Regions from separate parts of the Homo sapiens genome. Here all the other regions are reported to be linked to region 1. Evidence: microRNA targets listed by miRTarBase, many of them from high-throughput screens and not tested one by one. Region 1 holds a microRNA gene; each other region holds the end of a gene's coding sequence. Distances are from middle to middle.
Evidence for each region. Region 1 holds the annotated microRNA hsa-miR-4455 (AGGGUGUGUGUGUUUUU, at 2,576-2,592, opposite strand). A microRNA usually pairs through its seed, bases 2 to 8, with sites in the 3' UTR of a target mRNA and lowers its output. Matches are read on the target gene's strand: a 7mer-m8 pairs with bases 2 to 8, a 7mer-A1 pairs with bases 2 to 7 and ends in A, and an 8mer does both.

Region 1 (5,343 bases):
TTGGTATTGTCTTTGCAGCTTCCTCTGACTCTATAATTACCTCAAAATTAAAAGCTTATATATATGATAATAAAGTTATATATCATGTATATGTTACATATACATATAAGCACACACAAACATGCATGTATATACACACATGCATTCATAAACATATTGTTGTAGGAGTTACTAAGAAATTATTTTAGGCAGATAGAGAGGAGAAGGGGTCCTTGGGAAGTTTTCATTTCTTTTAAAGCACCTCCAAAAACGTTTCTTGTCTAGCAGAAAAGCTCCGGCTCTTAGAGCTGAGCTGGCAACCTTTAGTATGCAAACGCCAGCCATTAGAAACTGGATCCACCCAACATGGCGATTCCCATCATTGTCCTCTTGCCCTTGCCCCACACGTTCCTGGCAACATGGCTGCCCCCACATATCCCCAAGTATGTAGAACATCATGGCACCCTGCATTTGCATATTAAAAGACTAGGGTGGGAGGGTCAGTTTTTTTCGAGGGCTACATGAATGACTTACCTGGTCAAACCAATCCCCTGAGCCCTGTGCAAATCAAACACCATCTCCTCCAGCCTCTTCATATAGCTGGCTGGTATCCTGGCATGTGGGGTCTCCTCTTTCAGCTTTGGAGCCCCCCTCCCTCTGTCTCTGTATGGAGGAGCTTCTTCCTTCTGACTTCTCCCATCTTTCTTGCCTATTAAACTCTCTGCTCCTTAAAATCACACCAGGTGTGTCCGTGTCGTTTTTTCCAATTCAACTCGAGAGGAAGAACCTGGTATTCCTCCATTCATCAGAGCTGTATCAATATGATACGATAATATGGGTGAATCTCAAATATATTATGCTAAGTGAAAGAAGCTAGGCACAAGAGGCTACATCCCAAATTACTTCATTTATATGACACTCTGGAAAAGGTCGGACTAGGGACAGAGGATGGATCAGTGGTTCCCAGGGATTCCAGGTGGGGCAGCACGAGGGTGTATAGGATGATAGAGCTGTCCTGTATCCTCTCTGTGGTGGTAATTACTTGAATCTATGTATGTGTTAAAACTTGAAGAACTGTGCACCAAAAAGAGTGAATTTTACTATACATACATTTAAAAGTAAACTTTAAAAAGTGGCTTGTCAGCAATGCACAGAACAGCTCATTTCTATTGCAACAAACTATTGTGATTACTTTTGTATAAGTTACACATTTGGTCTTCACAATTTGAACCCCAATTGTGACACTATGCAAAGGGGGAAAAGTTCCCTGAGATTGTGTGATCAGTAAAAGATTATATTTACATTTAAATATCTTCAGTGTTTTTGACTTTAGCAAGACAAATGAGAATCTTTGATGGTGTTTGGTTTGTTGACCAGCCAGTTCAAATTACAGCTGGGTGGTTACCAAAGCTGGACAGATTACAGTATGGAATTAAAGTCTGAACAGAGTATGGGAATGCTAGCTTGAAACAAAAATAGAGTTTTGGGGAAAAAGAGCTTGGGAATTAATTGCATTCCTTGAATTCATTCCTTGGAAGTGTTTCATGCTGGCTCCCACAGTGGCTCAGGTGTACATGCTTTGTTTAGTAGTTGATCCTTTGAGCCATAGGAATTTTGGAATGTAATATGTTTGTTCTCCACCCACCCCGTGCCCATGAATCTCTTTTAGTAGGTTGATTTATTCACTCTTTAACTTCTATTGCACCTGAGTATACCAACAGTAGGATTAGGCTAGAAAGTATGCAGTCATAAGCTGAAATCAACAGGGACAAGTGATTAACAGGTGGACAGTGTTGAGCTTGCCAGGTCACCACTCTCATGGTCAATATTTTCTTTGTGCTATTTTTGGCTTGGTTCCACATCAGAGAGTTCAAACTCTGAAGTTGTAAAGATACTGCTTTTAAGAAAAATCAGCTCATGTCTGGACCTTGATTTAATCGTTTATTCATCTTTTTATAGTACTCTCTGTTCCCAAGATAAGCTACTTTATAAGGCAAAATTTCCACCTCGGCATCATTTCATATAAACATTTAATGCTGAAACTCCAGGTTACATCTGGCGTCTAATGATGAACGCAGACAGATGCTCCTATCCAGCCATGCCCTCTGCCACTCCGCGGGGTGCTGCTTTCCATTTCCTCTCTGTGTCTGTCAGCACCAGGGCCGAGCTTTTCTTCCGGGATAGATGCTGAGCTGACTCTGCACTCAAAGCGCTTCAAATGATGCTGATTGAAATCAGATGCTATAAAATGTTCATCACTTAGTTTCATTTATTAGTTTAGAGTGGCGTGCTATGCAAGCTTTTTGCTGTTTATTTATATTTTTACTTTAACTTTTATTAAAGTAATACAAGCATGAATTTTATAGAGCCAAACAATTCTACAATGTTCATTAACACAAATAGTAGTTGCTCCTTGCCTCTTCTCCAGAAACACCACTTTCAATTATCTTAGCTAATGCTATTGTCAGTAACCTCTACATCTCTAAATAAAATGCTTATATTGCTTTCCTTGATTTTTCAGCTTTATGCATTCATCTATTGGCTTATCCCTTTGCAAATGAAGAATTTGGCTGTCCTTCCTTCTCTTATTCTCAGGAAAAACACACACACCCTTCTCATCTGCTTATCTTTCTAATCTGGTTATATCATAATTTTTGTTAGCTCTTTGTTGAGCATTTATATGATTACAACCATGAAAATACTAAACTAAGCCATGCATCAAACTATAATGACTTTTCCTATCCTAGCCACTCTTTGCTTCCCTGGATTAAAATTTTATTATTATTATTGATGCTTATCACTAATTCAAACACAAACTCACTTAATTATACAAACATCCTCTTAAGACAGTCAGAGCATCACATATCTTATCAATCCAATCTTCACAAAATCTCTCCCAGATTCTCCAACATACTTCAGTCTAGATCGGCAGTCCCCAACCTTTTTGGCACCAGGGACCGGTTTCATGGAAGACAATTTTTCCACAGACAATGGGGGATGGTTTTGGAATGAAACTGGTCCACCCTAGATCATCAGGCATTAGATTCTCATAGGAGCATGCAACCTAGACCACTCGCATGTGCAGTTCAGAGTAGGGTTCATGCCCCTGTGAGAATCTAATGCCACCAGTGATTCGACAGGAGGCTGAGCTCGGGCAGTAATGCTCACTCACCTGTCATCTATCTCCTGCTGTGTGGCCCGGTTCCTAACAGGCCACCGACCAGTACCAGTCCACAGCCCAGGAGTTGGGGACCCCTAGTCTAGACCGTTCTCAACAACTGGGGCCAAACTGTCAACCTGGGACTTCTCCATCTTCCTGGGAATTCCCTTCACTTCTCTCATGTTGGATCTCCTGTTTCCTGTACGTCTTCTTTCCTGATTTACTCCTTTATCTTGGTGAAGCATATCTTTTAGCAACTTCCTACTATGAAGGAATAAAGGTGCATAGGAAATACAATATCTGGAACATTGCCTTTCTAAGATGTCTTTATTCAATCCTCATACTCAATTGATTTTTTTTTTTTTTTTTTTTGAGATAGAGTCTCGCCGTGTCGCCCAGGCTGGAGTGCAATGGCGTGATCTTGGCTTACTACAACCTCCGCCGCCCAGGTTCAAGTGATTCTTGTGCCTCAGCCTCCCAAGTAGCTGGTACTACAGGCGCCCGCCACCAAGCCCGGCTAATTTGTTTGTATTTTTAGTAGAGACAGGGTTTCACCATGTTGGTCAGGCTGGTCTCGAACTCCTGACGTCAGGTGATCCGCCCACATTGGCCTCCCAAAGTGCTAGGATTACAGGTGTAAGCTAACACACCCAGCCCTTAATTGATATTTTGACTATGTATAGAATTCTGGCTGGGTGGGGTGGCTCACACCTGTAATCCCAGCACTTTGGGAGGCCGAGGTGGGCAGATCACGAGGTCAGGAGATCGAGACCATCCTGGCTAACTCGGTGAAACCCCGTCTCTACTAAAAATACAAAAAATTAGCCGGGCGTGGTGGCAGGCGCCTGTGGCCCAACTACTTGGGAGGCTGAGGCAAGAGAATGGCGTGAACCCAGGAGGCGGAGCTTGCAGTGAGCCGAGATCTCACCACTGCACTCCAGCCTGGGCAACAGAGCGAGACTCTGTCTCAACAAACAAACAAACAACAAAAAAAAAGAATTCTAAGATAGTAGTTATTTTTCTTCAAATGTTTGAAGGCCTTGCTGTCTTGTCTTCTAGCCTCTGCCATTACTGTTGAGAAGCCTGATGACATTCTGATTTGATCCTTTGTATCCTTTAATCTTCTCAGATCCTTTCTTTATCCCAGCAGTTCTAAAGTTTCCCAGTGACATGCCTTGATTTATGTCTGTTTTTATCTACCATGCGTCAGTCTAAAAGCTTACATCATTCTTGTCTGGGAAACTGTTCAAATTACTTACCAAAATATTAACGAATGATTTTTTCCTTTCCATTTTTTTCTGTTCTCTTTTTCTGAATCTCCTATTATTTAGATATTGGACCTCCTGGACTAGTCTTCTAATTTTTTAATTTGTTCTTTTTTTTTTTTTTTTTTTGCTCTACTTTTTGGGAGAGTTCTTCAATTTTATCTTTCAATTTATTAAGTAAGCTTTAAACATTTTCTAGAATGGTTCTAAATGTTTAAAGCTCCTCGTTCTTCAAAAGTCTCATTTTTGTGTCATTCTATTGCTGTTCCAAGGGTGAAATATCTCTTCGTGTCTCTTGAGCTAGTACTGGTAAGTTTTTAAAAGAGCTGCTCTGTTTTGTCCACATTGTTTTTTACATTGGTTTGTCTTGGTCTGGATCTTTCACTTAGAATTTTCCTCACGTGGCTCGAATCCATGATCACGTGCTCATAAGAGCAAGAGGAAACTGAGTATGTGGGTCGTTAACAGTGAACTTCACCCTGGGCTGAGCTGGCCGAACTGTTTCACGGGAAACTCATAATCAGTATCTGTAAGATCTTCTTGGGCTGGTCAGATCCCCACAGGACTTTTTTTAGTCTCTTGCCTGGAGGATAATTGCCTGGCTAGGTTGACAGCATTCTGAGCTAAGGAAGACGGAGAGGACTGCAGGTCTCAGAATCCAGTGAGAATCTACTTACCTAGTCTCCCTATTTCTGGGATAGCACCCACTTCCACCTATGCCTACTGTCCCCTAGTCAGAAGACCTGTATTTTCTCTACAGAGAATAAATATCTAATAGTCTGTGAGTAGGGGGAGGGGCAACTGTCTGACTGCACAAATTGGATGAGGTGATGTGGAGGTGAAATTGCCTCTTGTTTTTGAGACAGGGTCTCTCTCTGTCTCCCAGGCTGGAGTAGGGGCTTGATCACAGCTCACTGCAGCCACGACCTCCAGGGCTCA
Region 2 (5,343 bases), not on the chromosome of region 1:
CCCTGGAGTTCAAGAACAGTGTTGGCAACATGGCAAAACCCTGTCTCTACAAAATATACAAAAACTAGCCAGGCATGGTGCTATGCCCTTGTAGTCCCAGCTACTCAGGAGGCTGAGGCAGGAGGATCGCTTGAACCAAGGAAGTCAAAGTTGCAGTGAGCCAAGATGGCACCACTGCACTCCAGCCTGGGTCACAGAGTGAGACCTTGTCTCAAAAAGAAAAAGAAATCAATTTGGAGGGATCTCCCTCATATAAATGGGGGTGGAAATTTGAGAACAGTGTGTACAATATATTACCTGTGTGTAAAATGAAAGGAAAAGGAAGTGTGTATGTCAAAGAATGTCTCATTCTCAGAGCGGGAGCTGAGCATCGGGGTGAGGTGGAGCCTGAGATCACGGTCTAGCCTTAAGAACATTTTAAATTTTGCACATGAAAATGTATTCTCTATTTTAAAAAAACCATAATTAGGTTTTGAAAAGAATCCTTGCTTTTGCAGGGATTGTGAAATGGAAGTTGAAGGTTTTTGTCCTCTATGAAGCAGTAGCTCTTTACAATGGAGGCATTTGTTAATTGAGTCTGATATAAAGTGTGATGTAGAGAAATAAAGCATGATGCATCACGCAGCTCGCAGGTCATTTCTCCCAGCGTGGGGGAAGCTGTAGGAGCTATAAAACAAACAACATGTTTACAGGGAGAAATTTCTAGTGATCCTCAGCATCACTGAATTTCATACCCGATTAGAATTAAAGAGAGTGTCTAATTTTTACCTCTGCTCCTAGAATAACACATTTCACAGAGCCTTCAAAGAGCCTTATGCCTGCAGTCTTTTCTGTCAAATATGCCTTTGTTTCATGAGCCTTAAAGTGCTATACAGGCAGCCATACAAGTTCACACACTTCTCCCTCACGCACCATTTGGCCCTCTGGACAGCCCGGTCAGATGGTCATTGTTGTCACTAGGACCAGCTTGTGGATAAGAAACCTCATCTCCAGGTGGTAACAGCAAAGCCGGCCTCCCTCAGGCCTGCAAAGGACCAACTCCTTCTGCAGCAGTGACTGTCTGTGACTTCTGCTTCCCTTCCTCCCTAGAAATGTGTCCAGTCCTTTTACAGTGTCACCCAGAACTTTGTCCATCTGCTAGGGGGCTGGAAAGGGAAGTTTCTGCCTCACACAGATGTTGGCTTCTCCTCTCGGAGGCGTCTTTTGTTCATGGTGCTGAAGGGTTTAAGGGGCAGAAGTGAAGGCATGTTTCCAAATCGGATGGTCTCTGGAGTGTGCTCCCTGAAGGACGGGGGTGGGGGTGGGAGAGAAGCTGAAATCTGTTTCAGAACCAATCCTGGGCTTGGGAAGCTTTTAGGAGGATTTGCTGCCCTAAATTAACTGTCCACCCTTCTTTCCCTCAGGTCATCTGTGACAAAATATTTCGCCATTGGTTTTCCGCGCCTCTCAAGAGCTCTGCGGTCTCTTTCCAGCTTCAGCTGCAGTTACAGGAGGCGGTGCAGGAATGTGCAGACCCTGGGGTCCCCAGTGGGAACACCCGGAGAGCAGCCTCCAGCGTGTTCTGGAAGCTTCGCCAACTCCTCCAAGCCACACTGAGGGAGCTGCAGGAGGCAGAGAAGTAGCCACTCTCTGGCCTTAAACATGCTCACACAGGAAAAGTGACCTTGGCTGGATTTCTTCTGCCATTGTTTTAAAGATGAGCCATTTCCCCTGTGCTCTCTGGGGTGCCGTTCTGGTCTCCACATTGTGGAGTGGCAAGTGCTGCTGCCAGAGACAGTGCTCCCTCGCTCTCGTCCCACCCTGGCCTCTGACCTGTCGCCTTGTGTAAAATGAGATGAGGGAGGAGGTACAGACCTCCCTTCAGGAGGGCTCTCGGTCAGAAGACACCAACCTGTGTGCACTTATTCTCTGCAGAGAGCACTTGTACCTGGTTATCCCAGCACGAGTTCCAGCTGTTCTTTCCTGTAAATCGTTACCACGTTAAAAAGTGTGCGTGTGTGCATACAAATGATGTGTATGCCTGTGTCTGGGTGCAAATGAGCATGTGAGCATGTGTGAGTGTGCCCATGAGTGTCTGCATGTGTGTGAGTGTGCACAGGTGAGTGTGCACAGGTGAGTGTGGTGTGCTCATGAGGAGTATGAGTATGCCTGAGTGTGAATATGTATGAGTGTGAATGAGTGTGTGCACATGAGTGCACGGGTGTCAGCATGTGTATATAAGTGTGGGCATGTGTATGTGATTGTGTGAGTGTGGGCAGGTGAGTGTGTTGGGGATGTGGGTTAGGGTGGGGAGTGGTGCTTTCTCTAGTGTGTCCTCCGGAACATCTTGCCTACCTAGCAAAGAAGTGTGACCATTCTTTCGGAATTAAATACAATAAAAAGAAAATAAGCTGCATCTTTAGGGAAGGGAATTTGCATTGGAGAGCGTGTGTAACGGCAGCTTATAGTATTTTTCATTTTGTGGAATCCACCAAGGTTATGGATGGGTTTTAGGGCGCCTCGTATTGCAATACACCTTCCCCTGGGCAGGGACTTGTAGGTTGGCTTGATGCAGCATTGTCTTCACCTTCAGAGAAAATTTAAAGTAGAGCAAATGCTGAGGTCTGCATTGACTCCAGGCAGGACCAGAGACCAGCACCTTTCTTTTGATGGATTGAAGACCAAGTGATAGGCATCAAATCCTATGGTGGCATGATACGCTCATCAGTGGTGATCCCAAGGAGGCTTTTCCAGCAAAATACAGGCAGGGGGACAGGCCAGGTGAAGCCAGTGAGCTTTCACTTAAAGGGACCTGGTTTCTACCCATAACTGTGACCCACGAGTGCTCAACAAACCAACGGGTCACCCCTTTTCAGAAATCCCATGAAAAGGGAAATCGAGAAAGATGAGAGAATCAGGAAGTCATGTTGGCAGTTTACACATTAAAGAAGACAAATTAATCGGACGTTGTGAAAGTCACAAACTGACACATTCCAAATGGTCTCTTATCTTGGCCTGCAGCCCCTTTCTAAACCAGAGAAACGGGAATGCCTTCTTCCAGACTTTGGGGTCACATTTACTGACTCTGCCCTTCAGGGCACGCTGAGAAATGGTGTGTGAGGGACTAGCATGATCAGAGGCCCCCAGCTCTAAATTCTGCCTTCCCCAAAGACCTGTTGGAAGGCCCACTGCCAGCTGTTATTCTTACCCATCACCACTGGGGATCTTCCAAATGACACAGAGTTCCATAGAGGGCCTCCTCATCATGGACATGAAGACTCGCTTTGCAATTGTATTCTAGCAAGAAGGAAAAAACCCATGTCAGTCACCCTGTGGCACGAGCAAATTAAAACCAAAGTTCAACGGCCAGGCCTAGGACTAGTGGATTCCAAAGGAAAGGGCGGGCTTCGGGCTATTGGGTGGAGGCTCCGATTTTCCCCAGAGCTGCGCTGGGTGCAATGCCTTTCTGTGGTGGTCGGGGCATACTTTGGGCCATGCTCACCTTCTAGGCAGGTTCTCTACAAGCAAAAAGGTTTACAGGAAGACGGGTGTGAGATGGAGGGGGGGAAGGAGGGAAGCCACCAGGGCTTTGCCCTCTGTGCCCTTTAAACAGTGGGGTTTCGCTCTGGGAGGTCAGAGTGGGTCTTTTGTGGGTAGACGCTGGGATGCCAGCCATTCATTAGTGGCCTGAGCTCACTGACCAGGCAGCAAAGCCAGCCTGGAAAAGAGAAATAGTTAGTTTTCATTTCAACCAAAATGGAAACAAATTGTTTTTGTTTACGATGGAGACTGTGCAATATATAATTATCCAACACAATTGTGGTTTTATTGCTGAAAGGGAGCTGTTTTATCTCTTCCCTTTATGTTTGGCTACACAGTTACACACACACACACACACACACACACCCTTTTCCATCCCTGCCTGGGAATTCCCATTAGAGCAGTGGCTCTCAAATTGTGGTGAAGCTCAGTTTTGTTTTTAATTTTGAAACCTTGCAAATCAATGCTTTTATATAACATAATAAATTAACACTGTGTATATCAATATTTAGTATTTTGAATATGACAAATCGGTTTTTTTCTGGCTGATCTAATTGAGCAACAACCGCACTCGTAGAGGAAAATGTCTCCCTAAATGATTTCTATGTTTTGTTGTAATAACACATAGTAGACAGAACACTCTCAGAGACATGTTGATGGGATCTGAAAAAGATTATAAAGTAAACTCATCAAGCTCAGGCTATTCCTCTTTAAGTTGTATCCAAATTAAAGCAAATGGTGCTTTATTCATGTCCAGTCCTTCATCAGGATTCCATTGCCACAGTTTACCTTGACAAATTGTAGTTAAAACTTCATTTGATGAAAAGAAAGAATTCCATAATTGTATACTCCATTGGCTTACAGCTGACAAACCTTAATACACGTGGGTTGTATAGAAATCGTAGGTGGCTCAGGAGACAAGTTCGTGGATACCTAGACTGGTCAATGAGTCAGTTGGCCAATGTCAACTGGCAATGTCACATAACATCACAAACGTTTACAAACACTGCCAATATTGCTAAACCCTCCTCTCAATTCTCATCTCACATGAGACAAATTAAAGCTAACAGTTCAGAGACATGCTGCCTCCTAGAAGTCCACCAGGCTTAGCCTCCCATGCATCCTGCCCCATACTAAGGCCCAGCCTGCTCAGCCCTTCCAGAGTACCTATGATGAACATCCAGGACATTACCTTAAATTACTGGAAGAATAACTCTTTTAAATCTTGATTTGGAAGCTATTCTTTGAACAGCAGTAAGTGGAGGAGTTGGGTTGGAGATTTCTAAAACCAATGACCGCATAAAGATACTCTCGCATTCACCACGCTAGCCCCTGTGGTTGGCAAACAAATGCCACTCTGGCTCTAACATCTATTGGTTCAGTCAGAAAAAAGAAATGCGCCCACCCGGCTCACATTCATGGGCTGCTCCTCCTTAAAACCACCCTTTTACTTCTGTACCTTAAAAAAAAAAAAAGCTATCTGTGTTACAGCTGAAGCTGATGGAGCTGATTATTGATTTTCATTTAAAAACTTACCTCTCAGAGTCCCTTCCTTATCTTCTGAAATGGGCATAATCACCTCGATCACAGCCTATTGTGAGGATTTAAGGAGATGATGAGTACCAAGCCCTTGGCACAGTGTCTGCTGCAGAAACAAGCACAGGAGTGTTCCTCGGTAGCAGTGGACAAATGCCAATGAGAAGGACTCCAGGTAGGGGACCAGCGTCTGAATCCCACTACACCTGCACTGTCTCAAGAAGACCCAGTGGGTTTTAGCTTTGCATGACATTGCACCTGGAGCCACTCTCTGTGGATGCTGGTCTT
Region 3 (5,343 bases), not on the chromosome of region 1:
TGAATCTCTCCTTCCTTGGTTTTCATGAGCCCACACTTTCTTGGCATTCATTCAGTCACCCCTCAGTCTCCTTTGCTGGACCTGCCTCCTTAGGCTGTCCCCTGAACATTGCTGATCCTCTTTTCCTCGTCTCTTCCAATCTATAGCCTATTCCTAGACAACCTTGACTACCCCCATAACTTCATTTATCAAAATGCAGATGACTCCCATGTCCACAGTTTTCCATTCTGACTTTTCTCCTGATCTCCAGACCCATGGATGCAGCTACCTTATAGATAACTCAGTGGAACTGCAGGAGTGGGGCAGTTTCCTGAAAGTTACTGAATTGCTTGAAGAATGACTCAGAGGAGTGTGAAAGTGTGGTATGGAAGGGGGAGGTTTGTGTGCTGATGCCCCTTAGACTGGGAATCAATGGTCATCGTCTTTTAAAGAAACATTCCTAAATATAGAACTTCGGCTGGGCTCGGTGGCTCATGCCTGTAATCCCAGCACTTTGGGAGGCTGAGGCGGGCGGATTACAAGGTCAGGAGATCGAGGCCATTCTGGCCAACATGGTGAAACCCCATCTCTCCTAAAATACAAAAAAAAAAAAAAATTAACTGGGCGTGGTGGCATGCACCTGCAGCCCCAGCTACTCGGGAGGCTGAGGCAGGGGAATCGCTTGAACCTGGGAGGCAGAGGTTGCAGTGAGCCGAGATCATGCCATTGCACTCCAGTCCAGCCTGGCAACAGAGTAAGACTCCATCTAAATATATATATATATATATATAACATATATAATATATATATATAATATATAATATATATAATATATATATATAATATATATAATATATATATAATATATATAATATATATATATAATATATATATATGTAATCTTCTCAAACCTACTGAAAAATTTGGCAACTCCAAGCCCCCAGCGCTTAGCAGTTTTTGACAATAAAACTATACCATAAAAAAAGGGTCTTTGCTATCCACAGGTCTACTGTAATGTTTGCTTTTTCTTTCTTTCTTTTTTTTGGTTTCACTTTGCTTCACATTGGGTGTGGTCTTTGGTCTAGTACATGAGCATAGGCTCTCATGTGTACCTGGGTTGCCAGGCATTCTCCTTGGTCTCAGAAGTTTCAACCATTTAAGATGGCACCCTGTCCACTTGCACCACTGAATGCAGACAGGTGTGCTGGGGACCATGTAGAGACCCACCTTAGTGCTTCTTACATGATGATCTTCTCCAGAGAGCAGATTCTGCTGGGGACTTTCTGTGGACAATCTCACTGAATCTTTATAAACTTTTTTTTTTTTTTTTTGAGATGCAGTCTTGCTTCTGTCGCCCAGGCTGGAGTGCACAGGCACCATCTTGGCTTACTGCAACCTCCCCCTCCTGGGTACAAGTGATTCTGCTGCCTTAGCCTCCCACGTAGCTGAGATTACAGGCACACACCACCATGCTGGGCTAATTTTTGTGTTTTTAGTAGAGACAGCGTTTTGCTGTGTTGGCCAGGCTAGTCTCGAACTCCTGACCTCAAGTGATCCACCTGCCTCAGCCTCCCAAACTGCTGGGATTACAGGCGTGAGCCACCATGCCTGGCCCAGCATGTCTTCTTTTTATTCCCACTTTACAGATGAAGACACAGAGGACTAGAGGAGGTGAAATGACTTGCCTGTACTTATAAAGCTGGTTAATAGTGGAGCCTAGATTAAGACTGTATCTGTCTGACTCGAGATTTAACTACTACACTACAATGAGCATTTCTGGTTTTGTTTTGTTTTAGTGGGGATGTGATTCACAGAGAAAAATAACATAAAAATCATACTTAGTTCCATGTTTCTGTGTCTCAAAGTACTTCAGACTACTTTAAAAGTCTAAAGCAGTGCAGTTCCCAACACAGTGGCATTGGGCCCTGTGAAAATAGTTGAATGTAGCACAGAATGTATTCTCTCCTGAAGCCCAAAAGTTTACATGTCATTTCCGTTTAAGTGGGGGCACCCCTGTTCTGACAGCTTGCTAGAGCACACTGTTTGCGTTTTGTGGTCATTTGCTAACCATCAAATAACAGAGGCAGTAATATTTTATCCTTGTTTATTTTCTCTTTATCTAGAAATAATTATTTGGTATTTCAAACATTCCCACCCTCCCCCTTAGATAGAAGGCAGAAGTGACATGATTATAAAAATGGAACTAAGTTAGATAATTTATGATCAGACTATTACAGGTACATCAGAAATGTACTCGAGTCTTTTTCATTTATAGGAAAATGCTGAAAATGTTCAATTGAAGTTTGGAACAAACATATATTATTTTGCAAATTATCATGAAATGTATAATAAAAACATATTATCTGTTTTTAGCTACAGCATAATTCTCAGTCATTTTTTACTCCATGAGTGCATTTTTATCATCCAGATATTTTTGACCTAATGAGGATCCTTTCAGTGTAGCAAATTTTTGCCTCAGCCAACACACAGAATTATTTTCTGGGCTATTGAGTTATAAGCAGCTGTATTTATTCATTCATTTATTCCTTCATGCACCAAATAAAGGGCCAATTCAATGCTAGGTCCTGTGGTAGACGCTGAAGTTATCATGGTGAATGGGACAAGGTCTTGGTCCTCAAGAAGCTCACAGCATAGTAGGGAAAACTTCAACCATGATAAGTGCTGTGAAGCACTTGCTAAGTGCAGGGTGCAGTGAGGGAGAGAAATGGGTCTTGCAAGAAGAGAAAACAGCATTCCAGGGCCCTAAGGTAGGAAAGCATTTGTAACCTTGCTTAGAGGAACTGAGGGCTAGAACTTAAGAGACCGAGAGAGGTGGCAGCAGGAGATGAAATTGATTATTTTGGTCTTTATTCCAAGGTTCATAAGAAGCAGGGGACTGGCTGTGCATGGAGAATTGATGGAAGGGAGCAAGAGTGGAGGCAGGGAATCTAGGAGGCTGTTGTACTATTCCAGAAGAGAGATGGTGACAGTTGGGACTAGGATAGAAATAGTAGAGATAGAAAGAAGTAGATTAAGGACTACTTAAGAGATAGGGTTGATGAGCATAGGCTGGAGGGATTGAACATGGGGGTGATGAGAGTGAAGTCAAGCCAGGTTTCTGACTTGAAAAACTGGGTAGATAAAGACACCATTCATTGGACTGGGAAACATTGAACACAGATCCCATTGTGTGGGGGGAAAAGTTAAGAGTTCGGTTGGAATGTACTGGGTTTGAGGAACTAGGCCCACCCTTTGGAGATGCAGGCAAATTCTAGGAGACAGTTGAGAACAAAAGGCATGGCATTAGTGGCTTGAAGATGCTGCTAAGTTAAAACCATGAGCCCAGGGAGATAACCAACAGTGAGCATGTAGGACTTACCCGGTAAAGATGAACACACCACTCTGGGTTTCTTACATGAAAAATTCCTCTGTTGGAGGTGACAAGAAATGGCTCCATTGACTTCAGTGGAAGACTGGGGGGCCAATACTTCCCCTCAGGTTTTCTCAGCTCCATTTCCTCTTGCCTAAGTGGAACCACCTAGACAGCTATTAATAAGCTATGCCACTGCTCCTTATTTAAGGACCCTCTCCAGCCTCACTTGGCTGTGATTAATAAAAAAAAGTTCTTTCAATCTCCTGCAACTTTTTCAGAAGAAGCTGGAAATAAAGACCTAGATTGCTTTTCACTGAATAGGCTAGCACATCATCGATCAAAGGCTGTCACAGACTTCCAGAAAGTGTGCTGCCACCAAGATATTTTATAATGTAAGTAGCTTGAGAACAAAGTTTATGAAAACATCACAAAGGTTGGGAAAATTCCCTCCAAATGCTTCCTCTTTCCCCAACCTGGCTGGGAGCTTTAGGTACTCAAACAACAACGATAATGTTAAGAGGTCTTTATTATTCAAAAAATAAATAACAAGATAATTACAAGTTCACTCTGGAAACAATGGAGACTGCAGGTAGATACAATAGATTTCCTTTAAATACAGTCATTTCGTAATGAGGAGTGGGCAGGCTCAGGGCTGCACTCCCTACTCCTCACCCTCATCTATAGTGGTAGAGATAGGGACAGGGTGGAAAGAAGAGAACTGACTAGCAACGGCCTGACTCTGTGTGTGTGTGTGTGTGTGTGTGTGTGTGTGTGTGTGTGTGTGTGTGTGTGTTAGAAAGGGGGATTGAGAAGAGAGACTGGGGGAGGGAAGAGACTGACAAAGGGAAACAGAGAGATTGAGAAAGAGAGATTGGAAGAAAGAGGTTGAGAGAGAGAGACTGAAAGAGAGAGATGGAGAGAGAGAGATTGAAAGAGAATGAATAACTGTCCGAGAGGGTGGCGGGGGGGGGGGGGGGGTTTCGGTTCTCCACTGTGTTAGACGTTCTAGAGCCTGGCCCCCTCCAACAAGGCCATAGGAACCCAGAGTCAACCATAACTGAATGTGAGCTGAGGCTCCCCATTTCCCTTCTGCATCTTCACTGATAAATCAAATGCATTATCCATGGAAAGACACTGCACGCAAAGAAACAAAACTGAACTTGGCAAGTTATCTGCTGTTTACTCAGAATTCAACCTGTGCATAATGGCCTTGTCTTTTCATAGGACTCTCTGGATGTCTGCATCAGTGGGGTTGCTGCTTCAGATATATAAGCTCTTATGGAGCAGGGCCCGTTTTGGTTTCATGTGACCTGTAATTCACTTATTACAGTTCTACATGCCTTGGAGTGTATAATAAATAGTTCTCCATAAGGAGGATCCTAGGGTTATAAATAGGCAGTTAACAGGGGGTGGGCTTAACCGCTGTGCTGTATTATGAAGACTCCCAGCGTCAGCTCCACCACAGCCTGCAAGGTGACACTGTTCAGAGTTTGAGTAAGCCAAAGGACGTGAAGCCAGTGCCATGGCTCACTTGGCTTGGATCAGTCACATTGACAAACACCGAAGCACCTGGTTGCAATTCAAATACTCCTCCCAAGTGAATGGATTGTTGCCCGCAAGGTTTGGCGGAACTGTGGGTATTTGCAGCTCTGAGTAAGATTCTCTCGAATCTACCGGGGGACTTTAGGCAGAGGCTGGCTATAAATGGAGCTTGACTCGAAGCTTCCCGATTGGAACAGAAGGTGACTTGGGCATAGATATAATAGAGTCCTTGTCTTTTAACGGTCAGCTGTTTCCCATTTTCCAGGGTTACCAAGTTGTTGCTCATGGTGTAGTATCCTTTTTCAGCCCACTGTAACACTGTTACAAAGAAAGGGAAAGTTTGTGGTGAGGTGAAGCAGAGCATGGTTCACATTCTGACAAAAAATATAGTTTAATGTTGGATATTGGCTTTGTATAGGGATGGATTCTCAAGGCCCCTTCCATGGGCT
Region 4 (5,343 bases), not on the chromosome of region 1:
TGGAACTAACTGTACAAGGCACTGATGATTCAATGATAAGTCCTGCTTAGTATTTGCCAGAAGTGGACGGTCCACAAGGAAAGAAAGGCATGCATACCTTGTTGTTTTCAAATAGTAGTAGTATCCTTTCTATGGTACGGAGATGACAAATAGTATGCTTAAAAAAAAAAAAAAACAGGCAAAAGGCAGAGTAAAATTATCTAACAGGACCGACGTCTTCAGTCACATGCCTCCTGCCCCTTAAGAAACGGATTTCATGCCAAGGAATAGTCCCGTGTTTTCAAGTACTTTGGTGATTAATTCTAGAATAATAGATAAGGATGAAAGTATATTCATTTAGAAATTTGCAAATGCATCCTTGGTAATCATGTCTGTGTGTTTTCCTATTTTGGTAAGCCAGGAGCATTTGACCAAATTGTGGTTATATTTCTTACATTCAGGACTTTTAGATATTATGGTTGAAAATTTTCTGAAGAGAAAACAGCTTTTTTGTTCTATTGCCACTGTTTTTTTTCTCCTTCAAATCATGGGATGCCACTTTAAAAAAAAATCAAGGAATTACACTTGCTTTTAGGGTAAATATAGGTGTTGTGCTGCATGGTGTAGTACTTAGTAAAAGAACATTTTATATAAACCTTCACTGTCACATGCCAGGCACTGTTCTATGCATTTTATACACAGTAATGGGTTTAATCCTTACAGTGCTCTGCAGAAACTGTTATGATTTTACTGATGAGCAACTGAGGCACATAGATGATAACTGACTAGTACGTGGCAAGCCTAGGATTTGAACCCAGGTAGTCTGAAGGGCCATGCTCTTAGCCGCTATGCTACATTGCTTCTGGTTCACTGTGTTGGATATGTGCCTTTAGTTTGAGTTCAGTTGATTATTAGGGCACAAACCCACTTTTAAGTGAAAATTACAAACTCTAGAGATGATGCATTTTAGGACAAAATAAAGAAGCAAACTTGGTTGCTGATTCATTTCAATTGATTCCATGTTAAAGATTTCAGTTGGCATCACTCTTATTTATGGAATCTAAAATCCTATGTAAACTTCTGGAAGACATTTTCCCTTTGATGCATTAACACTTTGAGTTTCAAGACTTAAAAATCAGGAGCAAAAAAGTTACATTTGGTGCTTCAACATTTTCTTATTTTACTTTCTAATTGTGTCAACATTTCCAGAAACTATTAGAAGGGTTATAGAAATGTAAGTATGCATTTATATACTTTATAAAATTGATTGAAGGCCGGTTGCGGTGGCTCACACCTGTAATCCCAGCACTTTGGGAGGCCGAGGTGGGCAGATCACGAGGTCAGGACGAGACCATCCTGGCTAACACAGTGAAACCCTGTCTCTACTAAAAATACAAAAAATTAGCTGGGCGTGGTGGCGGGCGCCTGTAGTCCCAGCTACTTGGGAGGCTGAGGGAGGCTGAGGCAGGAGAATGGCGTGAACCCGGGAGGCGGAGCTTGCAGTGAGCCGAGATAGCGCCACTGCACTCCGGCCTGGGCGACACGGCAAGATTCTGTCTCAAAAAAAAAAAAAAAAAATTGATTGAAAATCTACAGTGAAAACATTTTTGGAAAGCAAATTCAACAGCGAACACTTGACCATACCATTTGAGAAATGTTCTTTGTGTATTGACTGTTTTAGAAGAAAACAGCTTGATTATGGGCCAAAATGTTTATAATTTGACTACTGATTCAGACCAGTTAGCTCTTTAGATGACAGTTCTGTATGGATCAATTGGCTTCACTCTGTTTTATGGTTATAGTCTGCAACTACAGAATGGCCGATTAATCTTGGGAAGGGTAAGACAGGGTCAAAAGAAAGTCAGAAATCTATAAACCTTGCTATAGATTAAGCTTAGAATGCAAGTTCTGTTGACAAAAGTTTCTAGCATCAGCTGAGTATAATTTGGCTTCCGTCATTAGGAATGAGATAAATCCTAACTGTCCAACAGAAATATGGACTTGTTTCTAAAGGAGTTAAATATGTTTGACCTGAAAGTTTAAACCTATTACATTAAATGATTAAAGGGACCTTTTTTGGCAGTCTGATCAATGGGTTGCAAATGCTCTGCAGATGGGAGGTGACGATAGGAAGGAATTATGCAACATCATCCTTCCTCTAGTTTAGCAGGAAATATTTCTGGTAGGAAGACATACATGAAAATAGGTCTGCTGTGTAATGTCATTTTAGAACCAAACTTTGTTGGGTTAAGATGCTTTTACAGAAAACATCCTTTTAAAAACTTGGTACTGTATGTTTTAGTTAAGATAACACTTTTTGTGTCCTTGTTTGCTGAAAACGTTCAAGTACATAAAGAATTGTATTATTAAATTACCCACTGACAACAATTTCTTTAAAGTTTATATATTTGTGGGAAGGTCACAATTTACATACTTCCAAAAAACAAAATACCTTGGTTTATACATTGTCAAAACAGTCTGTAAAAATCAAAACAAATTGAAACAAAGGCAGAGATACTAGGCGAAAGAGGCAGAGACTTCCTATATACACTACAACTTCCTATTCAAATTTCAAAGTGCTTGTTTCAAGAGAACACATTTCTCACCTACTACCTTTAAACTAACATGCTTCTGGAAATGTGGTTTTCCTCCAAGGACAGGGATTCAATTTAGCTCAGCTCTGGCTCATTAGTGTGAATAAACAGAAGGGCTTTGCTTCAGGGAGGTAGACAGGAATCACAACAAGGCTTGACTTTAATGAGACCACATTACCACAGAGGTTCTCTTTTCCAGATGACTTCCAACATTGTCAGTGACAGTCAACTGTTGGGAGCAGATCTTGGGACAAACCTTTTAGGGAAAATGAACTAAATCAGCATGAGCCACTGTCAAGTTTAAGGTGACAGCTGAAGGCTGGGTGTGGTGGCTCATGCCTGTAACCCCAGCACTTTGGGAGGCTGAAGCAGGAGCATCGCTTGAGCCCAGGAGTTTGAAACTAGCTTGGGCAACATAGCAAGACCTCATCTCTACGAAAAAATTAAAGACTTAGCCAGGTGTGCACATCTGTAGTACCAGTTACTGGGCAGGCTGAGGCGGGAGGAAGGCTTGAGCCCAGTAGTTCGGGGCTGCAGTGAGCCATGATTGTGCCACTGCACTCCAGCCTAGCAACAGAGTGAGACCTTGTCTCTAATAATAATAAAAGGGGCAGCTGGAGTCCACCAAGAAGTATTGTCCATCAGGGATCTTTTCAGCAGGCACTAAACTGCTGGGGAAAGAGTTTCATCTTGAGCCTTTACAACAACAAACAACTTTTTTCTGTGAATCTGACTGATTGCCTAGGTAGAAATGTCCTTTTCGGTGGCCTCAGTGATACATTGATACTGTTTATGGTCATTTACAGTAAAGAAAATATGTCCTGCAAAGAGACAGACCACCAGAATATTTAGTTCTATGGCAAATACCTTATTTGAGGAGCTCATGAGCTTCATGACCAGTCACTTCTGGAGAGTGCAGGAGTTCAGAGTGTCCCAGCCCCTTTTGCTCTTCAGTGTTTCAAAATACATGTGTGGAGAAGCTGTTTTCTTGCAAAGAAGTTATGATCTCTGGATTGTCATGCCATCATTGGCACACAACTCCCCTCTGGAAGAGGAGCTGTTTGCCAGAAATATTTTCTCAGTGTGATTTATGGCATTCCACCTGGCTCTCTCCATCAGTCTCTACTAGCAGAGCCACTCCCAAATGACCCAGAGCCATCCTTTCCACTCCAATGGAGAGGCTTCCAGAACATGCTGCAGTTGGGTCCTTGGCATTGACTTGCAACTGAAGCTCCTCAGGAGTTGGTAGGAGGAAGTAGAGGGACTGGTGCCTGTAGCTCCTGGCTTTCCTCTCTGACCAACGCATAGCGCCTGGCTTTTCTAGGGTCGGGCTCTGGCGTCTCCTCTGCCCATCTCCCCACACGGCGCACACCTTTGGCCACCTTGGGTGCGTTCCTGCAAGGATTGTGGTCATAGATGACCAGCTTCAGACTTGACAGGTGCGCCAGGCTGGGGAAGTAACGGATGCTGTTCCAGTCCACATCAATCACCTCCAGGAAGGGCATGTGAAGCAGCACAGTGGGAAAGTCAGTTAGCCGGTTGCCCGAGAGCCAGATGGTCCTCAGCTCCTGGAGGCGCCGGAGCTGGCCTGGCAGCAAACGCAGGGCGTTGGAGCCGGCATGCAGAGTCTTAAGGAGACTCAGCTCACAGACCACATCCGGCAGCTGGGTGAGGCAGTTGGCCTCGATCCACAGGGTCCTGAGGTTCTGGAGCAGGCTCAGCTCACTGGGGAGGTCGCAGAGTTTGTTGTTGCCCAGGTAGAGGATGCAGAGCTGTTTCAAGGTGCACACCACCTGGGGCAGAGCCTTGAAGTTGTTGAAATCCAAGGCCAGAATCTGCAGGTTCTGTAGCTGCCCCAGCTCCGGAGGCAGGCTATTGAGGTGGTTGTCGCTCAGGTAGAGCTTGACCAGCTCCCTGAAGGAGCACACGTGCAGGGGGAAGCGGCGTAACTGGCTCCCACTCAGATCCACCATCTTGTCCAGCGGCATCTCACGGAGGTCCCTGACCACATAGTTCTGGCAACGGTCAGCAGGGATGAAGGCCACGAGGGCCCTGATGGTGTTCCCCATGCGGAGGCTGGGGGCATGGCGAGCCCCAGAGGACAGACTCACTGAGCGGGGCTGGCTCAGCTGACTGCTCTGGGGCCTATCCTACCCTCCCATTATAACTTGGGGATTGCATGACAAAAGCCAGTCACTTTGACAGAGAAAAGTGCTCCTGATAGCAACTTGAGTGTCCGGCGACAGCGCAACAGTCCGGCAGGGGCTGGGAGGCCATGTCTGACTCACATGCTTGCCTTTAATCACCTAAGCCCCAATCCCCTTTATCAACCTTTTTTCATTTCAAGCTGAAAATAGCTTTGCTGTTTTTTTCCCTAATGATAAAATATTAACACATTACATAAAGGTGTAAAAGAAGAAAATGAAAAACACCCATAGTTCTATTACCCAGAGATAAATACTGTACACATTTGCATGTGTCCTCTAGTCTTTTCGCTATAAGTAATCATTTGTTTTTTAAAATTGCACTTTAGGAGCTTTTTTTTTTTTTTTTTTTGACAGGGTCTCATTCTGTCACACAGGCGGGAGTGCAGTGGTGCAATCTTGGCTCACTACAGCTTCTACCTCCCTGGCTCCAGCAATCCTCACACCTCAGCCTCCTGAGTAGCTGGGACTACAGGTGCACACCACCGTGCCCAGCTAATTTTTGTATTTTTTGTAGAGATGAGGTTTCGCCATGTTGCCCAGGCTGGTCTTGAACTCCTGGGCTC
Region 5 (5,343 bases), 100 Mb from region 1:
TCCAAATAGGTGAATTTTATATTTTTATTTCTTTTTGGTTTTCAAACAGGGATCTATTTGTGATGACTATATGGCAACTCTTTGCTGTCCTCATTGTACTCTTTGCCAAATCAAGAGAGATATCAACAGAAGGAGAGCCATGCGTACTTTCTAAAAACTGATGGTGAGTCAATGCAAACATGCCTCTCAGAACATGTGGGTTTTTAGAAATATCACTAAAGACTTTGTCAATTATTTGTTGTTTTGAATAATTCAGCAATAACTATTTCTTAAGTCTCCTGAAGTGCTATCATAATATCAAGATTGGCTTTAATTTTCTTCTTATGAAGAAGATAGCTCTATACTTTGAAACCATATTTTAGTAAATAAAGGAATGGTGAATTTTCTAAACTTCTCAGAATTCTGGTGATCTATTAAGGAAGCACTTACCACTTGTAAAATACCAGAGTATGGTGAGATACAAAAGAATTAGAAAACATGTTCCCTGCTAAGACAAACAAGTTGACAAAAGGAATTCGTAAATAATTATAAAATAGAAGAGTAAAGAAAATAACATTCTGTATGATATTTGGATTGATTGTGGCATAAAGCATCTATCATAGCAAGGTGAGGTTAAATAGAAAACTCCTGTTGGAGAAGCTGAACTTTGAAAGAGGTGAACATAGAATTTAGAATGTTTGGAAATGTTATATAGAATTAACCATCTGAAATTCAATCAAGTCATTTTCAACTAATTTTTCTCAGGACTATCTATTGAGGATGTAGTTAAGTAGAAATCAACATGACTTACTCCATCCCCTGTAGAATATATATTAAGTATGGGAAGAACACAATTTTTCTACTCTTTGTAATATCCAGTTTCCTTCCTGAAGTGATAAGGACTCTGTATGGGTTAATAAAAATAACTCTTGGGAGATACGTAAAAAAATGTTCATTTACTTAGCAAGTAATGTATTAAGGATCTAGGATCAAGTATATATTATCTTAGCAACTAATGTATCAATGTATCAATATCTAAGACTAGGTAAGATACTGTTAGGTATTGTAGTAGGGTTGGGGAGCAAGATAAATAAGCTAGTCCCTCTGTCATTATAGAATTTATACGAAAAAGGGGGATTAGACAAACCCCTAACTAAAATGCAGAATTCAATTAATGCCTATAGACAAAGCGGTATTTTATGTTCAGAGGAGGAAAAGATCACATCTTGTAAGATGTATAGGTGAAAGTTTCTTGAAAGCAGTGATTTTTAATTCTAAAGGGGAAGTGCGTATTAGTTCTCAACAAGAAACAGATGGCACTCAAACTGTGATAGTTCAAAGATTTAATGAAGACTAATTATAAAGGTGTGGGTGGGGCATTGTAGGGAGATGACAAGGGATGGCATAATAACCTGCCTGGCAACAGCCCCAGGGAGGAGAAGAGGGAGCAGTGACCTGAATCCTTAAGGAGAGAGCTGTGTGAAGAGGCCTGCCCTGAAAGAAACAGTATCCTCTCAAGAGAGGGTTGTGAGCAGCCCGAGGCAACCCATAGAACTGAAAAAGTACCCTGACCTCACTTTCGGATGTCCTTCTGGTTTTCCCATTGGCTGAACCCACCAGAAAGGCAGAGGGCAGCAAAGTGTCACGGTAGTCCGCAGGTCGCTTCCCAGGGCACACAGCAGGATGGTCAAGGGAGTAAGTAAATCAGATAGGGGCAAACAGAGGATCACTGACTCAAGATGTGGTTTTAATTAATAGAAATGGAGGCTGAGTGCAGTGGCTCACACCTGTGATCCCAGCACTTTGGGAGGCCAAGGCAAGAGGACTGCTTGAACCCAGGAGTTCAAGACCAGCCTGGGGAACATGTTGAAACCCTGTCTCTTGAAAAAATACAAAAATTAGCTAGGTGTGGTGGTGCACGCCTGTAGTCCCAGATACTTGGGAGGCTGAGGTGGGAGGATCACTTGAGCCTGGGAGGTAGAAGCTGCAGTGAGCTATGATCACACCACTGCACTCCAGCCCTGTCTCAAAAAAAAAAAAAAAAAAAAAAAGGAAAAGAAAAAGAAAAGAAATGAAATGTTGCTTCTAATCAGCAATATTAATGAAACTAGAGAGGCAAAAACAGAGAAAATATCTTTATGAGCTTAGGTCCAACTTGGCTAGAACATATGGCATAAGTAGAAAAATAACGAAAAATAAAAGATTTTAAAGGCCTTAGCATGCGATGTCTGAATACTAAGCTAATGACTTGGTAGGAATTGGGAAATTATTGCAGGCTTGAAGTAAATGAATAGAACTACTCTTTAGAAATATGAATCTAAGGCTGGGCATGGTGGCTCATGCCTATAATCCCAACACTTTGGGAGACCGAGGTGGGAGGATCACTTGAGCTCAGGAGTTCAGCACCAGCGACCAGCCTGGGCAACATAGCAAGACCTCATCTCTACTAAAAAGTAAAAATAAAAATAAATAAAATTTTAAAATAATAAATATTAATCTAATAATAGTATATAGTACAGATTGTACAGGATGAGGCCAGAAGCAAAGATGGGGAGTTAGATCATTCCAACACTGTTTACTTAAATAAATACATGAAACAATTTGGATCAAATATCTACCCACACATTCATAGTAATGAGTCCTGATAGCTCAAGTGTTTTCTTTAACCTCAGGGAAAATATCTCACTGAATCTTTAGGTGGGTTTGAAGTAAAATACCTTGGCGGTCCTGACTCCTCCTCATCAACTTGGACCCTACATCACTCACTGGCAATAAAACTTTAGACAAACAGATATCGAAATGGGGAGCTAAACAAGAGAGAAAGAGCAAGGAATAACAACATGATTTACGTTAAAATAGATTGAGATGAAGGACATAGGAATCCACTGGAAAAGCTCCCCATAGTCCAAACTGGGGCACTTTGAGGAACAAAATAAGGTCGTGTTAGATTATAACCCAAAGTATAAAATATCTATGAGTTTGTGCTGACATAAATGACTGAATAAAATTTGAAAATTGAAAAAAAGTATGTATGTTGAAAGCAGGGAAAACTGGGAATTTTGAGAGCAAAGAAGTGGCAGGAGAATTTCTGTATGGGAGAAGAGACACATCTCCCATATGGAACTCCAAATATTTAGGTAGATACTCCTTCCTCAAGGAGAGCGGCATGATTCCCCACCCTGAAGTGGGGGTTTGCATAGTGACTTCCTTCCAAAAAGTACAGCATGAAAAGTACAGCATGCAAGTGCACTCTCTATACTGTATGGAGTAACTCCACAATGGAGAAACCTGACACAATGACCTGAGCCAGGTAATCAACGTCACCATCATTGGTAATAAGTCATATTGATAGTTTGCACCCCTGATTTGATGTGATGAGAATGGCACTTTACCTTTGTGGTCTTCTCCCCAAAACCTCTTAACTCCAGTCTAACCATGAGAAAAACATCAGACAAACCTAAACTGAGGCACATTCCACAAAATACCTGACTACTCCTCCTGAAAACTGTCAGGGTCATCAAAAACAAGGAAAGGCTGAGAAACAGTCACAGTTTAGAGGAGCCTAAGAGAAGATGACAATTAAATGTAATGTGGTATGCTGGATGAGATGCTGGAACAGAAAATTAAAGTAGGTAAAAACTGAGTAATCTGAAGGTAGTATGGGCTTTGATTAGTAGTAATGCATCAGTATGGGTTCATTAGTTTTGACAAACCTCCCATGGTAATGTAAGATGTTAACCAACAGGAAAATTGGGTGCCAGATACATGAGAGCTCGCTGTACTATCTTTGCAACTTTTCCGTCAATCAAAAATGATTCTGCAATTAAAAGTTTATTAAAAATTATAAAAGTACCTTAAGAAAATTCAAAACTCTTGTGTGTCCTTTATAGGTGAAAAGCTCTTACCGAAGCAACAAAATTCAGCAGACACCTCTTCAGCTTGAGTTCTTCACCATCTTTTGCAACTGAAATATGATGGATATGCTTAAGTACAACTGATGGCATGAAAAAAATCAAATTTTTGATTTATTATAAATGAATGTTGTCCCTGAACTTAGCTAAATGGTGCAACTTAGTTTCTCCTTGCTTTCATATTATCGAATTCGAATTTCCTGGCTTATAAACTTTTTAAATTACATTTGAAATATAAACCAAATGAAATATTTTACTGATAAGATTCTTCATGCTTCTTTGCTCTCCTTAAAATGTCTTTTTCACTAGTTAGTTCCAAGGGTCAGTCTCATAATTTTGTTCTTATACTTTGATTTCCTTTTTCTTTTTTTTTTTTTTTAATAGAGTTGGGGGATCTTTCTTTCTTTTTTTTTTTTTTTTTTTGAGATAGAGTCTCGCTCTGTTGCCCAGGCTGGAGTGCAGTGGCGTGATCTCAGCTCACTGCAACCTCCACCTCCTGGATACAAGCGATTCTGCTGCCTCAGTCTCCCGAGTAGCTGGGATTACAGGTTCCCGCCACCATGCCCAGCTAATTTTTGTATTTTTAGTAGAGACGGGGTTTCACCATCTTGGTCAGGCTGGTCTCGAACTCCTGACCTCGTGATCCACCTGCCTCGGCATCACAAAATGCTGGGATTACAGGCATGAGCCACCGCGTCCAGCCTAGAGTTGGGGGTCTTTCTATGTTGCCCAGGCTGGTCTTGAACTCCGGGCCTCTAGCAAGCCTCTCATCTCAGCCTCCCAAGGTGCTGGAATTACAGGTGTGAGCCACTGCACCATACTTTGGTTTCTTAGCAGGAGATTTTGGTTCACAGTAACCCAGCTCTCTTTCATCTAAGAACTTTAGATGAGAAAAAAAAAAAATAGACTACAGATAACTATTCCCAGGCAGTTATGGTACATTTAGCCAACACTTTTGCCTCTTCTCATGTTATCTGTTAGTATTAATGCTGACAAAGCAAGATTTTTTGCGAAACAACACACCAAGCCTTGCTTTTACACTGCATTCCTCAGGAGGTTGTTTATTGTGTTGTTGATTTTCTTTCCCTTTTGAATATGAGATATCAGAGTAAGAAAACTCTGATCAGAGTTTTCTGAAAACTCTTATCAGAGTAAGAAAAATTTGATCAATGATCAAATTCAGTGACTCAATTTTGGTTAAATTTTATCCATCAATAGATGGATAAAAGTGTAAAATGATTTTTTTCACATTTCTTGTCCCATTTGATCCGTCAGCATCATTTTGCCCTGATGAAAATCTCACTTCCTAATTTCCCCTAGTTCTCCTCCTACACTTCTGATTCCATTTCATTTGTTGGGGTGGGGGAAGTAAGAGGCAAAACTATTTATCTTATACACTTATTGTGAAATCTCAGTGAGACAAAATGTCAAAGCACCTGGAACTTAGTAGGCA
Region 6 (5,343 bases), not on the chromosome of region 1:
CAGACAACATGCCTCCCCTGGGTAATCTTATCCGAACTCACAATTACCATCCATACTCTGATGATTCCCAAATATGCATCTCCAGCCCAGGCCATTCTGCTGAGATTCAGACCTGTTAATCCAGCTGCCTTAACATGGCCACTTATCAGTTCCGCAAGCACCCTAATTCAGCATGCCCAAGGCAGAATTTTTGATATTCTCCCTTCACTTGATTTTTCTCTCATGTATCCCAGCACAATGAAAGGCAACACCATCTATCCAGCTGTGAAAATGACCCAGTCATAATTTTGATTTCTTCTCCCTCATCTCCAACATCCCAAATGCATCGTGAATCCCTCCACTTCTCACCAACATTACATTAATCCAAACTACCCATCACTTCTCTGGCAACAGTCTCCTAATCAGTCTTCTTGCCGCCAAACACACTCTTAGAGTTCACACACACAAAGCAGCCAGAGATTTTTAAATACAGACATGATCTTTCCATTCCCCAGATTAAAATATTTCAGAAACTTCTCATTCCCTTGGGATGAAGTGCAAACTCTTCAACATGAGTCACACACAAGGTGGTCCCTATTTTTGTCCCGACTCCCCTCTAAAATGGTCATCTTTTGCCACTTCCCTTCTCACTCTCCTAGCTCCAGTCATAGTTAAAACTGGGGGTATTCGCAGGCGCCTGAAATGGCCGTTCAGCTCCTGTTCTTTATTCAACGGGTGGCCTCACAGCAATAATGACCAGTGGTAGCACAGGAGAAAAAAGCAGGCAAAAGTAATGTTATCAAGTTCCTATTTCAGTCAGAGGTTCTTGTTGTATAGGCAAAGTAGGAAAAAAGAAACACAAAGATGACTTTGGTGGAAGTATTTCTAAAGGAGAATGCATTTTTATGTTTTCACCAAGCTATCAGCTCCTCTGGATTTTAATATTATAGTGGGGTCATAACAAGCTTTCCTCTATTGTTGGCTTTACACAGATGCAAAGTGGTGCTCAGGAAGCTAGGAGACTGATGAATAGTGGGTTTGATGTATTTGAATCATTCAGCACTTTGAGTTAAATGTGCATATTCTGTTCAAAATAGACAATGGGGAGGGGCAGTCCCCCCTTTCCCTCTCTAACTTGCATAACATCAGGCCTCACTGCTTTAACTAATGAGTATTTAGAAGTAAAGGCTCCTACTGATTCCAGCGAGTCATTAATTCTCTGCTTGCAGAGCCACTGTGGAGTTTTTCATCGGCCACATTTTTTTAGCTTTTACCAAGTTGCTTCTGAGCAGCAGTGCTGACCCCGGGCTCCTGTGTGTACCACACACCAGACACATAATGGGCTTGAAAGTCCCCTTGCAAGGAATTTTACTGGGGACCAGGAACAAATTACAAAGAAGATGCATATTCTAGCCACTCTGTTGACAAAGATGTCTCAGAACTCTTAGTTTTAGGGAACTTAATTGACCTTGAATGAAAATGTATATTTAAACCAATATGTATAACCTGGTAGAATAAGCGGAGGAGGTGAGTTACAAAATTCTCTTAAACTAATTGCACAGTCAGCCCTACCCTTTGTAATAATGAATGTTTGCTCCATTATCGCTCCAGGTTTATTATTTTCTAAACAGCCTCATTGATCTTGCCTCAGTGGGCTTTCCATTTTTACACATTACATTCTCTTGGGAATTGAAAAGCACGGTGTCTCTGAAGATGCTCAGTCAACTTGAAAACACTCATTTTTGAAAAGGTCTTAACCTGCCTTCAACTTGAAGCAATTCAGACTTTGCCCAAACAAACATTAGAGCAGAGACACATCACTCGTGTATATGTTTCTACCATCACTGGGAAGCTGTTTGTCTGAAAGGTCATTTACAGACCGTTTTTTAGGGTATTGAAAATTCAGGGATCTATACTCATAACTAAAATGAATGTACATGTAATTGAGAGCATGGCACTTTATTATAATGGATTCTGCATTATTCAATATCATAAATATTTTGTGGAAGGCCCTATTTCGTTATGACTCCAACTACTAAACTTATAGCAAAATCATAATGTGTGGTGGAAGGGAAAGGAGAAAGAAGAAATAAATAGAAAAGGCTAGGAAGCAACCCCAACTCAAGATAAATTCCAGTTGGAAAGGCAAGAGTTTTGTGTTTTGTATTGATTTGAGATTTCATTTTACTCATCAATAATGCCCTATTTGAAAGAAGGAAGGGCAATTTAAATATTCTAAACTCATGACTGAGGGGTCCATAAAGCCTGGAAGCTCTATGACTCCAAATAATCAAACTTCAAATACTCTAGCGTTTAAAAAAAAAAAAATAACAAGAATAGTATATTTGTCAGTAATTGAACCAAAGGCAATACAGGAAATAAAGTAGGCAAAATGTTTAAACTATTATAATGCTTGAAAGTTACAAATCTCCCCTCTGTTGTCTAAAATTTTAACCATTTTAGTAAACTTAAGCTAAAGTAAACCAACAGACTTACCCACATTACTTTTCAAGTGGTTAGGTAAAAAAGGTAATAAAAGGCAAATAAGTACTGCAAATTAATCCTCTGCTGGCGACATCATACCTCACAACAGTGCCTCAGCAAACCACTTAATGTGAACTTCAACAGCTTTTAATCAGTTTTGTATGAAAAGACATGATTTGATTTGGGTTTTCAAATGGCTTTATCAATCATTCCCACAGTTCCAAGAATACTAAATAACAATTAGTTCTTAGGACAAAAGGTTTGCCTATATTAACCTTCAACTCACCCAGACATCCAAAGGTGGCACTTGCTTTTTCATCAAAATGAGATCATGTTAGCAGCTGAAAATATAAGTATATGGAAAGGTTGTGAAACTTCTTTCAAATTATTACCCTGGAACAATGACAATAGTTGGGATTTCTCTTTTGCAGAGGGAAGAGAAGAGGCAGAAATTCCAGTCCTCCTCCCCCCAAAATTTTAGTCTCGGGATTTATTTGTGCTGAAAGCCAGAGTTATCTACTGCTTGAAACCTAAGCAGAATGCATCAGCATTTCAGGACCACCTGGGACCAAGGGGGGCTGGGAGACTTCCAGATGGATTGTAAGACAATTCACTGATATTTACATAACGAGAATAAATGTTTTTCCTAAGATAGCATTTCCCTTCAGTGTCTTGAGACCACCAGCAAAAGAGGGAGGTACAGAAATTCTATTACATTAATAGTCTTTGTTTTTATGGCTTTGGCATTTATTAACTAGTGGGAGCTGTTTATTGGGTCATAAACTTTACTAATGGGGATATTATCTCTAAATTATAAATCTTGTCCAGTATATGGCTTAGTTATAAAAAGAATGATTATTTAAAGTGTCTGTATGGCTGCAACGTATCATGTTTATCGGCATGAATCCTATAATGGCCATTTCATTGCTAATTGTGGGCTTGAACCAGAAACAACCAGGGCAGTAACACACATCTATGCAATAGAATAAGCAGTTGTCACCCCACAACTCAGGAGCATTGTCATTGGTTTGCTTCCTTTCTTTTTCTCCCCCCACTTCTCAAATGAACTACATTATGAGCCTCTACAAGGGCTAAATTATCTACGTATTTAAACTCTTGAAGGAAAGACAACTGACTGAAGAGTTGAATAGGTAAGTGACGAATGTGTCAGCTTGAAAAGTTCCAGGAAAGTGTCATCCTTCTAAAAGCCTGCTCTCTGGGGAATGAAAAATCTTAAAGTGACAAAATGGCTTGGCACTGTCAGTTGCCTTAAAAAAAACCTGGGACAAAAATCAAGTAGTCAAATTTAGGATTTATGGTAGATAGTTTTAGTATATAAATTGAGTATACTAGTTTAGTGTTAAGTCCTGAAAGGGTTGGGAGGAGCGTCTATTCTAACAATAGCACATGTGGAATTATCCTAGGCTTACATATAGAAATCGTTTATTGATTAACTCCAATTTTTTAAAAATGAAAGGGCCATTGTTGTGGAGAATAAATTGGTACATTTGAGTGCCAAGAAGCCAGCAAGACACTGCTGCAAATGTGGAGTGAAAGAATAATGAGTCCGAAGGGTCCCTTGAGATGTCATCAGCTCTTCTTTTTCTCAGGGTAGTCCCTGAAAGGTAAATGGTGCAGCTCCTTTTTGAGACCTCCATTGTCTCCCAGAACACCAGGCAAATGGATTTATGATACATAGCATCCAACACTGAACAATGGCATAGACTGGGATAGACTTCTTACACTGAATTCCCAGAGGTACATGGCTATGGGTTTTAATCAAATGTACACTACATGACAAGAGTTCTGCTGAAGAAAAATAAAAATAGAACTAGAAAAATGCAGGGGAAAAATGTTGTAGTTTCTGAATATTTAAACCTCTAGGGTGGGGCGCGTGGGATGTGTGTGTAAAACAAACCAAAAAAAAAACAAAAATCTCAAAATCTTCAGCTTTCACATTTGTAAATATTTTAGACATAATAAAGTTTTGGTCAAACTATAATTATACACACATGCATATATTCCTAAGCTAACAAGCTGACTTTAGATAGAAAAAAGGGCATTACAAATATAAATACTGCATATGTTTCCAGTGTGTGTGCACGTGCGTGTGTGTGTGTGTGTGTGTGTGTGTTGGAGGTTCTTTTTCTTCCCATAGCTTTACTAAGTTCAAAAGATAAATATATTTACTCTAGAGAGGTTTAAGAATTATTTTGATGAGGTGGGTTGCTACAAAACTTAATTATGTAAGTAATAAACGTGTCAAAAAGGTTTCAAAAATGTTTAATAGAATCACAACTTATTGCTGTGATATAATTTGATTTTGTATTGTCATGTATAACCTTCAAAAGTCATTTTCTGTTCATATAGTAATGAATCAAATTATGTTGGATCAAAAATTATCAGAAGATTTTTTGGTATTAATAAACCATACATATAATAAAAATATTCAACATGTTTTAAGATGGCATTTTAAATAGTAACAGTACGTCGGCAATGTAACATGATGTTCTGTAAAACTAACATGACAAAATAGGATTAATTGTGGTTTATGGATTTCCATTTAATATAAACCTTGTTTCTTTTTTGTTTTTAATGAAATTATATCTACTAAAGTAAATGTGGCAAAATGAGAGAAGTAAATCATAGAGAATTGACCAAAACTGGCATGGTTATTCCTCCTCTAAGCCAAACGCGTCCTTCAAAAAGGTCCAGTAGTCAATGTATTTCGCAGGAATAGGTGATGGCATACCAAGCCAAACATCTTCACATCTCTAGAAAAAAACCAAAAATGGATATGATTAGAACCACATTTCAAAGTACAGTTTTGAAAATTCAACACCAGTTTATTTGCAAAGTGAAAATTTCTACCATCTACTT

Region 2: the mRNA of DIPK1C is a reported target of hsa-miR-4455. The part of its 3' UTR that is shown has no 7-base or 8-base seed match.
Region 3: the mRNA of CD40LG is a reported target of hsa-miR-4455. The part of its 3' UTR that is shown has no 7-base or 8-base seed match.
Region 4: the mRNA of LRRC10 is a reported target of hsa-miR-4455. Seed matches in the 3' UTR shown: 8mer at 2,894-2,901.
Region 5: miRTarBase lists PLAC8 as a target of hsa-miR-4455. The part of its 3' UTR that is shown has no 7-base or 8-base seed match.
Region 6: the mRNA of EFHC2 is a reported target of hsa-miR-4455. The part of its 3' UTR that is shown has no 7-base or 8-base seed match.

What each region holds. Positions count from the first base shown.
Region 1 is chr4:184,935,846-184,941,188 of GRCh38, forward strand. MIR4455 (microRNA 4455) reads right to left here and starts at 2,595; the gene lies at 2,538-2,595. RefSeq lists a silencer at 4,790-5,084.
Region 2 is chr18:74,432,780-74,438,122 of GRCh38, reverse strand. It overlaps DIPK1C (divergent protein kinase domain 1C), which reads left to right. Exons shown (of 4, transcript NM_001044369.3): 4 at 1,404-3,348. The coding sequence ends at 1,622. Among named protein-coding and RNA genes, the nearest start is that of DIPK1C, 22 kb to the left of the region's middle.
Region 3 is chrX:136,658,908-136,664,250 of GRCh38, reverse strand. CD40LG (CD40 ligand) reads right to left here. Exons shown (of 5, transcript NM_000074.3): 5 at 3,861-5,212. The coding sequence ends at 4,836. Among named protein-coding and RNA genes, the nearest start is that of CD40LG, 13 kb to the right of the region's middle.
Region 4 is chr12:69,606,197-69,611,539 of GRCh38, forward strand. LRRC10 (leucine rich repeat containing 10) reads right to left here and starts at 4,711. Exons shown (of 1, transcript NM_201550.4): 1 at 2,368-4,711. The coding sequence starts at 4,642. The coding sequence ends at 3,809.
Region 5 is chr4:83,089,498-83,094,840 of GRCh38, reverse strand. PLAC8 (placenta associated 8) reads left to right here. Exons shown (of 5, transcript NM_016619.3): 4 at 50-163; 5 at 3,870-4,793. The coding sequence ends at 154. Among named protein-coding and RNA genes, the nearest start is that of PLAC8, 23 kb to the left of the region's middle.
Region 6 is chrX:44,143,660-44,149,002 of GRCh38, forward strand. EFHC2 (EF-hand domain containing 2) reads right to left here. Exons shown (of 15, transcript NM_025184.4): 15 at 4,213-5,237. The coding sequence ends at 5,136. Among named protein-coding and RNA genes, the nearest start is that of NDP, 170 kb to the left of the region's middle.